2 separate regions of the Homo sapiens genome follow, and region 1 is linked to region 2. The links come from fine-mapping of genetic effects on gene expression. A gene starts in region 2. The other region holds a variant in brackets. All regions are shown on one strand. Distances are from middle to middle.

Evidence for each region. PIP is the estimated chance that this variant, and not a neighbour inherited with it, causes the effect.
Region 1: its variant is fine-mapped to the expression of ZNF605 in whole blood (Lepik 2017, PIP 0.95).

Annotation. Positions count from the first base shown.
Region 1 is chr12:133,206,034-133,211,410 of GRCh38, reverse strand. It overlaps ZNF268 (zinc finger protein 268), which reads right to left. Exons shown (of 6, transcript NM_003415.3): 6 at 1-5,377. Among named protein-coding and RNA genes, the nearest start is that of ANHX, 27 kb to the left of the region's middle. The variant CG/G (reference allele first, on the strand shown) is at 2,522.
Region 2 is chr12:132,953,918-132,959,294 of GRCh38, reverse strand. ZNF605 (zinc finger protein 605) reads left to right here and starts at 2,989. Exons shown (of 5, transcript NM_183238.4): 1 at 2,989-3,052. It overlaps LOC124903064 (a long non-coding RNA gene), which reads right to left and starts at 2,746. Exons shown (of 2, transcript XR_007063552.1): 1 at 2,565-2,746. RefSeq lists enhancers at 2,779-2,858, 2,612-3,440, 3,718-4,012, 3,441-4,271 and a silencer at 3,019-3,358.

The DNA of each region.
Region 1 (5,377 bases), 250 kb before region 2:
AGGGTTTCTCCATGTTGGTCAGGCTGGTCTCGAACTCCGGACCTCAGGTGATCTGCCCGCCTCGGCCTCCCAAAGTGCTGGGATTACAGGCGTGAGCCACCGTGCCTGGCCACCATCTGTATATCTTTGGAAAGTATGTATTTGGATCTGTCCCCATTTTTAATTGGGTTGTCTTCTTGTTCAATTTTAGGGTTTTTTTTTTATATTTTGCATACAAACACTTTTTCAGATTTTTTTGAATGATTTTATTCATTACAAATTCCAATTATTGCTATACATTATTTCAAATATATAGGAAATCACTTGACTTTTGTCTATGGCCATCTACTTTGCCTTTTATTATCTCTATCCATTCCAATTAAGGCATGGAATGATGGACTCTATTTCAGTTTCGTTTTCCAAAATTATGGCATGGAAAATCGTAAGATTGAATTTCAGGGGTTCACTGGGACTGCAAGAGGGGGCACATGGCCATCACAAAACAGGAAGCACTGACCATCCAACACTGTGCCTAGGTAGTAAGGAAGGGGTGCAAGCACACACCTTGTCTAGCCTGCTTGCAGTACCTGCATTCTGCTCACAGACCTCTGGGTTGAATCCACAGAGGACCAGGCCTTCCTTCTACTCAGGACCTGGGGATCACTAGAGGCTGCATCACAGTAAAGACTGAGCTGCCTTCTCCTCAGGACTGACCTGGGGACCCTTGGCAGGGGGGAATCCACAGTGACAAACAGACCTTGCTTCTACTCAGGACCCGGAGACCCCCGAGGGCACTTCACAGTGATGACCAGAATTTACCTCATCTCAGGACCAACCTGGGGGATGCATCACACTGAGAACCAGAGCTTCCTTCTCCACTGGCCAACCTGAGGACCACTGTGGGGCACAACCACAGTGAAGACTGGAGCTTGTTTCTCTTCAGGACTGACCTAGGGACCCTAGTGGGGCAAATCCACAGTGAGGTTCTGAGCTTCCTTCTCCTCAGGACCAACCTGGGGACCCCTGGGAGGTAGATCACAGTGATGACCAGAGTATCCTCCTCAGGACTGACCCGTGGTGGGGGATGCAACCACAGTGAGGACTAAAGCTTCCTTTTCCTCACAACCTGGGGACCCCCTAGGGGGATACATCACAGTGAGATCCAGAGCTTCCATATCTGAAGACTCCTGTAGGGTACACCCACAGTGACGACCAGTGCACTTTCCGGACCAATCTGGGGCGATGTCATCTCACCTTTGGGATACATGGAGGCCACAGGAGGAAAAGATGAGGAAAAGTGAGGCCTGCACCCTGAGTGCTGAGGAGGGAGCTTTGCTGTTTCACTTTGCCCTGTAATATCTGAACAAGATTTATTTTAGGAAATCGTACCTCTATTGAGGTTTCCACTAGTCATCTTTATAGCAAGCCCAACTACTTTTTATACATATGGGTTTGTTTCTGGGGAGAAATCCCAGTACAAAAAAAGGGAGAAACACTGCGACAAAACACTGCAACAGTCCAGGTCAAAGTTGGGGATGAACAGCACCTGTGGGATCACCCTGGATCCCAAGAGGGAAGGGCAAATGTGCACCCTATGTGCTTGCTTTTATTAATTTTTTTTGAAGGAGTCTCACTCTGCTGCCCGGGCTGGAGTGCAATGGCACAATCTCAGCTCACTGCAACCTCCGCCTCTCCAGTTCAAGCAATTCTCCTGAGTAGCTTGGATTATAGATGCATGCCACCACAGCTGGCCAATTTTTGTATTTTTAGTAGAGACGGGGTTTCACCAGGCTGGTCTCGAACTCCTGACCTCAAGTCATCCACCTGCCTCAGCCTCACAAAATGCTGAGATTACAGGCATGAGCCACCATGCCCAGCCTTTTTATTAATGTTTTAATGGCCTGTGTTTCTAACAAGTAGTTGAAACAATGTTGAAAATTAAAGAGTAGACATGTTAAAACTTGCAACTTCATTTAAATTTAAATATATCATTTATACCAAAATCAGAATTTATTTAAGATTTATGGCTGGGTGCTTGGCTCACACCTGTAATCCTAGCACTTTGGGAGGCCAAGGCAGGTGGACTGCTTGAGCCCAGGAGTTTGAAACCAGACTGGAAAACATGGTAAAACCCCATCTCTACAAGAAATAAATAACTCTACCTGGCCCTTTAGCAAAGAATTAAGAAAAATCAATACAGACCAGTGGCTCACACCTGTAATCCCAGCACTTTGGGAGGCTGAGGGTGGATCACGAGGTCAGGAGTTCAAGACCAGCCTGGCCAACATGGTGAAACCCCATCTCTACTAAAAACACAAAAATTAGCTGGGCGTGGTGGCGTGTGCCTGTAATTCCAGCTACTAGGGAGGCTGAGGCAGGAGAATTGCTTGAACCCAGGAGGCAGAGGTTGCAGTGAGCCAAGAACACACCACTGCACTCCAGCCTGGCAATACAGCGAGACTCCATCTCAAAAAAAAAAAAAAAAATGCAAATACTATGCCATATAAGGAGCTTGAGCATCCACAGGGAGTATCTGTGGTTG[CG/G]GGGGGGTCCTCCATGAATACTGACAACTGCATACTTGCTACTCTACTGGCAGTTCCAAACATTTGTTTGTGGTTTATTTTGGGTTTCCTAATTACACGATCACATCTCCAATTCATGGCAGTTGTTTCTGCACCCATCCCTAATTCCTCACATTCCTTGTTTTCACACCTTGGCTAGATGTTACTCATTTCATAAAAGTGATGCGCATTCTTGTAATTTTGCTTTGTTTTTTACAGACAGGGTCTCACTTTGTTGCCCAGGATGGAGTGCAGGGGCATGATCATAGCTCACTGTAGCCTTGAACTACTGGACTCAAGCTAACCTCCTGCCTCAGCCTCCTCAGTAGGTGGGACTACCGGCACTTGCCACTACACCTGGCTGATCTTTTTTTTGAGATGGAGGCTTGTTCTGTCGCCCAGCCTGGAGTGCAGTGGTGCAATCTTGGCTCACTGCAACTGCCACCTCCTAGGTTCAAGCAATTCTTCTGCCTCAGCCTCCCGAGTAGATGGGATTACAGGCACGTGCCACCACACCTGGCTGACTTTTGTATTTTTAGTAGAGACGGGGTTTCACCATGTTAGCCACACTGGTCTTGAAATCCTGACCTCAAGTGATCTGCCCACCTCGGCCTCCCAAAGTGCTGGGATTACAGGCATGAGCCACGGCGCCTGACCACACCTGGCTAATCTTTTTAAAAAGTTTTTGTACAGACAGGGTCTCCCTATATTGGTCAGGCTTGTCTCGAACTCCTGGGTTCCAGCAATCCTCCAGCCTCAGCCTTCCCAAGTGCTGGTATTACATGGATGAGCCACTGCACCTGGCTAATTTTACTTTAAAGGAATCTTTCTACTATTTTATCATTAAGTATGACATTTGTGTTTTCAGAACATATATTCCCTACCAAGTTACAGGAGTTAATTTTAATTCCCAACTTAATAGTATTTTAGTGTCATCTATGGGTGTTAAATTCCATCAAGTGATTTATCAGCATATACTGAGATAATCCTTATGAGTTTTATCTGGTAGTTAATTAAAATATTTTCTAATATTAAATCTTCCAAACATACTCTTCTGTTTTTTGAGACAGGGTCTAGTTCTGTCACCCAGGGTGGAGTACAGTGGTACGATCTCAGCTCACTGCAACTTCCGCCTCCTAGATTCAAGTGATTCTCCCGTCCCAGCCTCCCAAGTAGCTGGGATTATAGGTGTCAGTTACCATGCCCTGCTATTTTTTTGTATTTTTAGTAGAGAGGGGTTTCACCATGTTGGCCAGGCTGGTCTCAAACTCCTGACCTCAGGTGATCCACCATCTCAGCCTCCTGAAGTGCTGGGATTATAGGTGTGAGCCACCGTGCCTGGCCCCATATATCTCTTTTTAAGTGGGCATACTGCCATTATAAATAATAGTGATTCTGCTGGTAATGAACAAAGGATGCTGGATCCACTAATAGTCTGTTAAACCTAATATCATGACTTTCTTGTTAGCTATACATTGGTTTGCTATAATTCCATTTAGAATTTTTAAACCTATGTTCACAAATATGGATTTTTAAACCTATGTTCACAAATATGGATTTTTAAACCTATGTTCACAAATATGGTTTGCAAGTCATTTTTTCTCCTAAATTTCTATTTGATGGGGAAGTTGTAAAATATTGGGGTTATTTTTCCTTGGATTTTCCTTATAATAACTATTCCTGAAAAGTCTCTGGAATGTCTTTCTTTTCTGGGGCTGGGGTAGAAGGACTAGATAGATTTACAAACCAGTAACTCAATTTCTGTTTTGTAAAATTTTCATTTCATTAAATAATAAGTCCTAATCAAGTATTATTCTTTCCCACAGTATGTGAGTGCTGTCCTCAATACTGTCAACACTTCTGGCTTCTACCAGGCAAGGCTGCATGTAGATTTGCATCTGAAAAAACAACAAACTAAAATCTAACCCTAGGTAGTAGTAAACTGAATATAAACTTTCTCTTATGAATTTATTCTGTCTTCTTTGGTACATCAATAATAATATACACCTTTACAGTATTTCCCAGATTGGGGGATACACTTTAGCAAGTATCTGCGATTATTTGTTTATGTAAGATGTCCCTTCCCTTCTGTGAATCATCATTCTTCACCCCAAGTATCTTGAGATTGGATTCTGTATAAGCAGAATACAACAGTTAGGCATTCAGGTATCATTAAATTCCTCCGCTTCAAGGATGAAAATTTCTTTGGGTATCTAATAGAGTACAAAGCAGAAGGTGTTTCAGAAATATTTGCAGTATTGAATCCGCATATTCCTCCAAGATAGCCCTAATCTAACTGGCAGGGTCCCACTCTTCCCAGATTAATGCCCACTCACATAACAAACCTGATGAGGTAGTGAAGAAAACTAACTTTGTGAGTAAGCAACTGGCAGAGTTTTTCACCACTGTGACTCTATAGCTACATGTAACTAAGTAGTATCACTGACACATAATCTTAAATTGAAGTTTTAAGATCATTATTCTCCATGTTATACATGGGTATCAAAAGCATTCCCCTCTTGACCACTCCAGAATTCTGTTTAAAATTTTTCAATGACAACTTATCCATTTCCCCAAAGCCTCAGTGAGCACATGATGCCAACAATTCATTTCATGACTTCATAGCATGGGCCAAGTTTCTTGCTTAAAAGACTTCCATCCTGTCTTGGGAAACAACCATTTCCAAATATCCACATATCCTTGCAAGTTTCTGCCTACTCCTCTACCACCCATTTCTGAAGCCATCTGATTTAGTAAGCTGTATGCAAAAGATACACAATGGCTAATGCAATCAAACAAGGAATGTATTAAAAGCACACCCAATAGCTCAAAATAAA
Region 2 (5,377 bases):
CTACAAAAATACAAAAAATTAGCCAGGCATGATGGTGGGTGCCTGTAATCCCAGCTACTCGGGGGGCAGAGGCGGGAGAATTGCTTCAACCCAGGAGGCAGAGGTAGCAGTGAACTGAGATCGCGCCACTGCACTCCAGCCTGGGTGACAGAGCAAGACTCCATCTCAAAAAAAAAAAAAAAAAAAAGGCGTATAAATTCTAGTAAGTCATTTAATAAATGACACGCTTAACCTCGGAGAAAAGTGAAAATCATAAATCTGTGAACAGCAAAATTTTCTGAGAACAAAAACAAAACTACCTTAAAGCAGAATTTTAATTTTAGCTCTGTTGAGCATGGAATTGGTTTGCTTAAATAAAGTTGAATCTCAGTTAGAAGCAGGGCAATGTGGGCTGGGTACGGTGGCTCAGGTCTGTAATCCCAGCACTTTGGGAGTCCGAGACGCATGGATCACCAGAGGTCAGGAGTTTGAGACCAGCCTTGCCAACATGGTGAAACCCATCTCTACTAAAAATACAAAAAGTAGCTGGGAGTGGCTGGGCGCAGTGGCTCACGCCTGTAATCCCAGCACTTCGGGAGGCCGAGGCAGGCGGATCACGAGGTTAAGAGATCAAGATCAGCCTGACCAACATGGTGAAACCACGTCTCTACTAAAAATACAAAAATTAGCCGGGCGTGGTGGCGCACGCCTGCAATCCCAGCTACTCGGGAGGCTGAGGCAGGAGAATCACTTGAACTCAGGAGGCGGAGGCTGCAGTGAGCCGATATTGTGCCACTGCACTCCAGCCTGGGCGACAAGAGCAAAACTCCATCTCTCACAGGCTCCAAATTTACTAATATAGAATTGAGCAAAATATTATTTCATATATACTTTAATTTGGTCTTTATGGCCATTTCAATTTTTTAAATTGCCAATTGTGAGTGTGTTTCCTGTTTCTCCCCATTTTTATTTTAAAAAACTAATATGCTTTTACAGTTTTTCTTTTTCTTTTTTTTTTTTTTTAGACAGAATCTCACTCTGTCTCCCAGGGTGGAGTGCAGTGGTGAGATCTCAGCTCACTGCAACCTCTGCCTCCTGGGTTCAAGCAATTCTCATGCCTCCACCTCCTGAGTAGGTGGGATTACAGGTATGAGCCATTACAGGCATGAGCCACCACACCTGGCTAATTTTTATATTTTTAGTACAGATGGGGTTTCACCATGTTGGTCAGGCTGGTCTCGAACTCCTGACCTCAGGTGATCCGCCCGCCTTAGCCTCCCAAAGTGCTGGGATTACAGGTGTGAGCCACCGCGCCTGGCCTGGCCAAAAAATATTTTTAAGAGAAGGTGTCTCCCTCTGTGGCCCAGGCTGGAGTGCAGTGTTGCCATCATAGCTCACTGCAGCCTCAACCTCCCAGGCTCAGGCAATCCTCCTGCCTCAGCCTCCAGTAGTTGGGACTACAGGGACAAGCCACTGCTTTATATATCCATAAATATATTTTATTTCCCTGTAATGTCCTCATCTCATTTATTTTTCCTTTTTTTTTTCTTGAGATGAGGTCTCACTCTGTTGCCAGGCTAGAGTGCAGCGGCATGATGGCTCACCGCAACCCCCGCCTCCCGAGTTCAAGTGATTCTCCTGCCTCAGCCTCCCGAGTAGATGGGATTACAGGCGCCCACCACCACGCCCAGCTAATGTTCTGTATTTTTAGTAGAGACGGGGTTTCACCGTGTTGGCCAGGATGGTCTCAATCTCCTGACCTGGTGATCCGCCCACCTCAGCCTCCCAAAGTGCTGGGATTACAGCCGTGAGCCACCGCGCCCAACCCTATCATCTATTTTCATTCCTTTTGTCAATACTGCTGGATTGGATGTACTAAATGTAAGGTCCTCTGAGCTGGCCGCACCATGGTCAAGCCATCGTGACATTCCCCCACCCTTGTGATAATGTACTTTGTAATATTCCCGGTCCTTGTGAATGTACTTTGTAACATTCCTCTCCGCCCTTGTGACAATACACCCTCCCCGCCCTTGTGAATGTACTTTGTAACATCCTCCCCTGCCCGCAAAAAATTGCTGCTGAGGCCGGGCGCGGTGGCTCACGCCCGTAATCCCAGCACTTTGGGAGGCCGAGGAGGGCGGATCACGAGGTCAGGAGATCAAGACCATCCTGGCTAACACAGTGAAACCCCGTCTCTACTAAAAATACAAAAAAATTAGCCGGGCGTGGTGGCGGGTGCCTGTAGTCCCAGCTACTCAGGAGGATGAGGCAGGAGAATGGCGTGAACCCGGGAGGCGGAGCTTGCAGTGAGCCGAGATCGCGCCACTGCACTCCAGCCTCGGCGACAGAGTGAGACTCTGTCTCAAAAAAAAAAAAAAAAAAAAAAATTGCTGCTGACTCCACCGCCTATCCTATCCCAAAGCTATAAGAACCAATGACAAGCCCACCACCCTCCGCTGACTCCTTTCTCAGACTCAGCCCACTTGCACCCAAGTGAATAAACAGGCGTGTTGCTCACACTTAGCCTGCTCAGGTGGTCTCCTATACGGACGCACGTAACACTAACATTTACCGATATTACTTACAGCTACGATGAAAAATGGAAAAGCAGCCGGACGCAGTGACTCATGCCTGTAATTCCAGCATTTTGGGAGGCTGGGGCAGGAGGATCATTTGAACCCAGGAGTCGGAGACCAGCCTGAGGCTGCAATGAGCGTTCATGGCACCACTGCACTCCCCACTGGGTGACAGAGCGAGACCCTGCCTCCAAAAAAAAAAAAAAAAAAAACAAGGAAAAGATGCAGACGCTTCCTCCTGGAGGCGCCTTTAGGTTCTCTCACAGACATGTTGGGCCAGCAGTGCTGGCTCCATCCTAGATTTCTTCCAGTCCTCCCCAGTTAGCCGCCAAGGGGCTTTTCCAACCGGAAACCTCCAATCCGCGACCCCGGCGGGTGCACCGCCGAGCCCCCCGGGAAGTGTAGTTCCAGCGCGAGCGGGACGCTGGGAAATGTAGTTCTGCGCGTTCACGTCCCCGATCGGGCCGTGTCCGCCGCGGCCCTGCGAGGTCCGAGGGGTAAGGGAGCGTGCAGCGGGGGCGGGACCACGAGGCGGCGGGGCTGGGGGCGGCCTCTGTGTCTGCGCCGGGGATCGCGGTGACCCCGCTGCGGACCGGCTCGCGGTGACCCCAGCGCGAACGAGCTGGCTGCCGGCTGGGGCGAGAAAGGCCTGCGGACCGGCCTGGGCGCATGCGCGGAAGGCGGGCCTCAGGCGGGGGCTCTGGGGGCGCGCGGGGGTGGGAGGCAGAGGGTGGGGTGGGGGCTGTAGGGCGGGCGGCGGCGGGGCGCTGAATGTGGGTGTCGGGGGAGATTTGGGGTCAGCTGGGCGATTCACTGGGGGCCTATGGAGGTCGCTGTAGACTTGGGGTGCAGCACGGGCGGGGCAAGGGGACGCGAGGTTGCCCTTGGCCCCAGGGGAGAGGGGCCCCTGGGAGGCCGTGTGGAGGATTTGTCTGCAGCGATTAGGACTCTGCTGATGAATGATTTGGATGCCTTTGGGTGAGCATTGGAGGCCAGCGGGGTGAATGATGAGGCTTCTGCGGGGGCCTGCGTTGGAGGGCTTAGGGGCTTGCTTGTGTGGGTTCCATTCACTGGAAAGCCTGCCGGCTGTGACAGTGTTGGATTTCACCAGAGCCCTGTGCTCCTGGAAAACAGCGAAGGTTGAGGAATTTCCCACCCTTTTGGGTTCCAGCAAATGGCTCACTGCAAAGATCTCCCGTTCCCTATATGACTTTGGTCAGCCTCCAGGATGCCCCTTGTTCACACAGACCTGCCACGTTGCCGTCGCTTGCCTCATCGGTGACTGGCTGAACTCCACCGAGCGGTCGGAGCAAAATGCTCCTTAAGCAAACTTTAGCTAAGCTTCTTTCCTTTCCCCATTTTCTTGAGCTTTGGCCCATCCCCAGCCTGAGCCAACACGCAGCCTCGCCTGAGAACAGGCTGGCTCAGGGTCAAGCTTTCCCCGCTCTGCTGTCTGGTCGCCCGCACTTCCACCTCGCTTGGCCAGGCCTGGTCTTTGCTAACCTTGTTCACACCTCTCTGTGAAAGAAAAACCCTTTTTGCCTTGCAGAGATGCACGTGAGTCTCGTGGCTTCACGGTTCTTCCCAGAAGCCCGTTCTCCTTCCCCTTCCCAACCCTCTTCCGCGTCTTTTTTTCCCCACTTCCAATAACCCTTTGGAACCGTCTTTCTTTGCTCTGTCCAGTTGTATGTTTTATTTGACAGCTGAATAACAGTGGTTGCTCTTTCAACCCCTGTCTCCAATAGCGGAGGCGAGTATGGGGTGGCCTATGCTGGCGAGTGGCTGGGGTTTGTTTCTGTGCTTGTGTTTGGGGATCTTATGATGGAAGCATTAGGAATGGCGCTGTGTATTTGTGACAAGGGAGTCTGGATGTAAGTTAATGGTGGACCTGTTGCAAGTTGTGAGTGCGTGGACAACGGGGGTCATACTTGGCGTCATTGGAGGGGCCTGCGGGATCGGCATTTGTGCAGAGCCCCACAATCCCTTTCCAGGTGGTGTTTGGGAGGGCCTGTGGGAATGTCAGTGAATGCTCCAGCATGGAGTGGATTAGAGAATGGGGTGTCATGGGGGCGAATGCTTGGGGGCCCCGGGGATAAGGGATTAGGGATCCCTGGGCATTGAGTGACTGGGGTCTAATTTAGGGGGTCTGTGGCGCAAGCCTCAGAATGTCAGTTACAGGGGAGGGGCTCTGTGAGCGCCTGACTTGGGCACCTGATGAAGTGAGTGAATGGAGACCAGTGTGTTCGTCCCAGGACAGAAGCCCCTTCTCCTCCCCTCCCCACCCTTCTCCTCCCCTCCCTACCCTTCTCCTCCCCCATCCTTCTCATCCCCTCCCCACCTCACCTGCAGGAGTGACTGAAGCCCCTTCTCCCCCGCTCCCCACCCTTCTCCTCCCCTCCCCAGCTCATCTGCAGGAGTATCTGAGTTCTGTGGGGATCCTTTGGGACTCAGAGTTTGGGGTTTCAGTCTGTGGTGATTCTTAAGTGGGGCTTTGGGGGTGCTGGTGATTATGGTGTCTGGCATCTGTATTTAAAAGCCCTGTGGGAGTCACTGAGGTCCAGTCATCAGTTGGGCCTGTAGGGATAACTCTGCCTGGCCTGTGAGGTCTATGGTGTGACGTAGGAATGGTAAGTGTCTGGGGGCCTGTGGAGGATTAGGAATAAAGGGTCCAGTGTACATCGTTGAATGGGGGACAGTTTTATTGGCTCGTGCCCTGGCATTGGCTTTGTTATTTGAGGGTGTTGGAACCAGGTGAGAAGGAGCTTGTTTGTATTAGTGACCGGGTACCAGAGATGACTGAATGACTGATGGGGTGGGCAGTG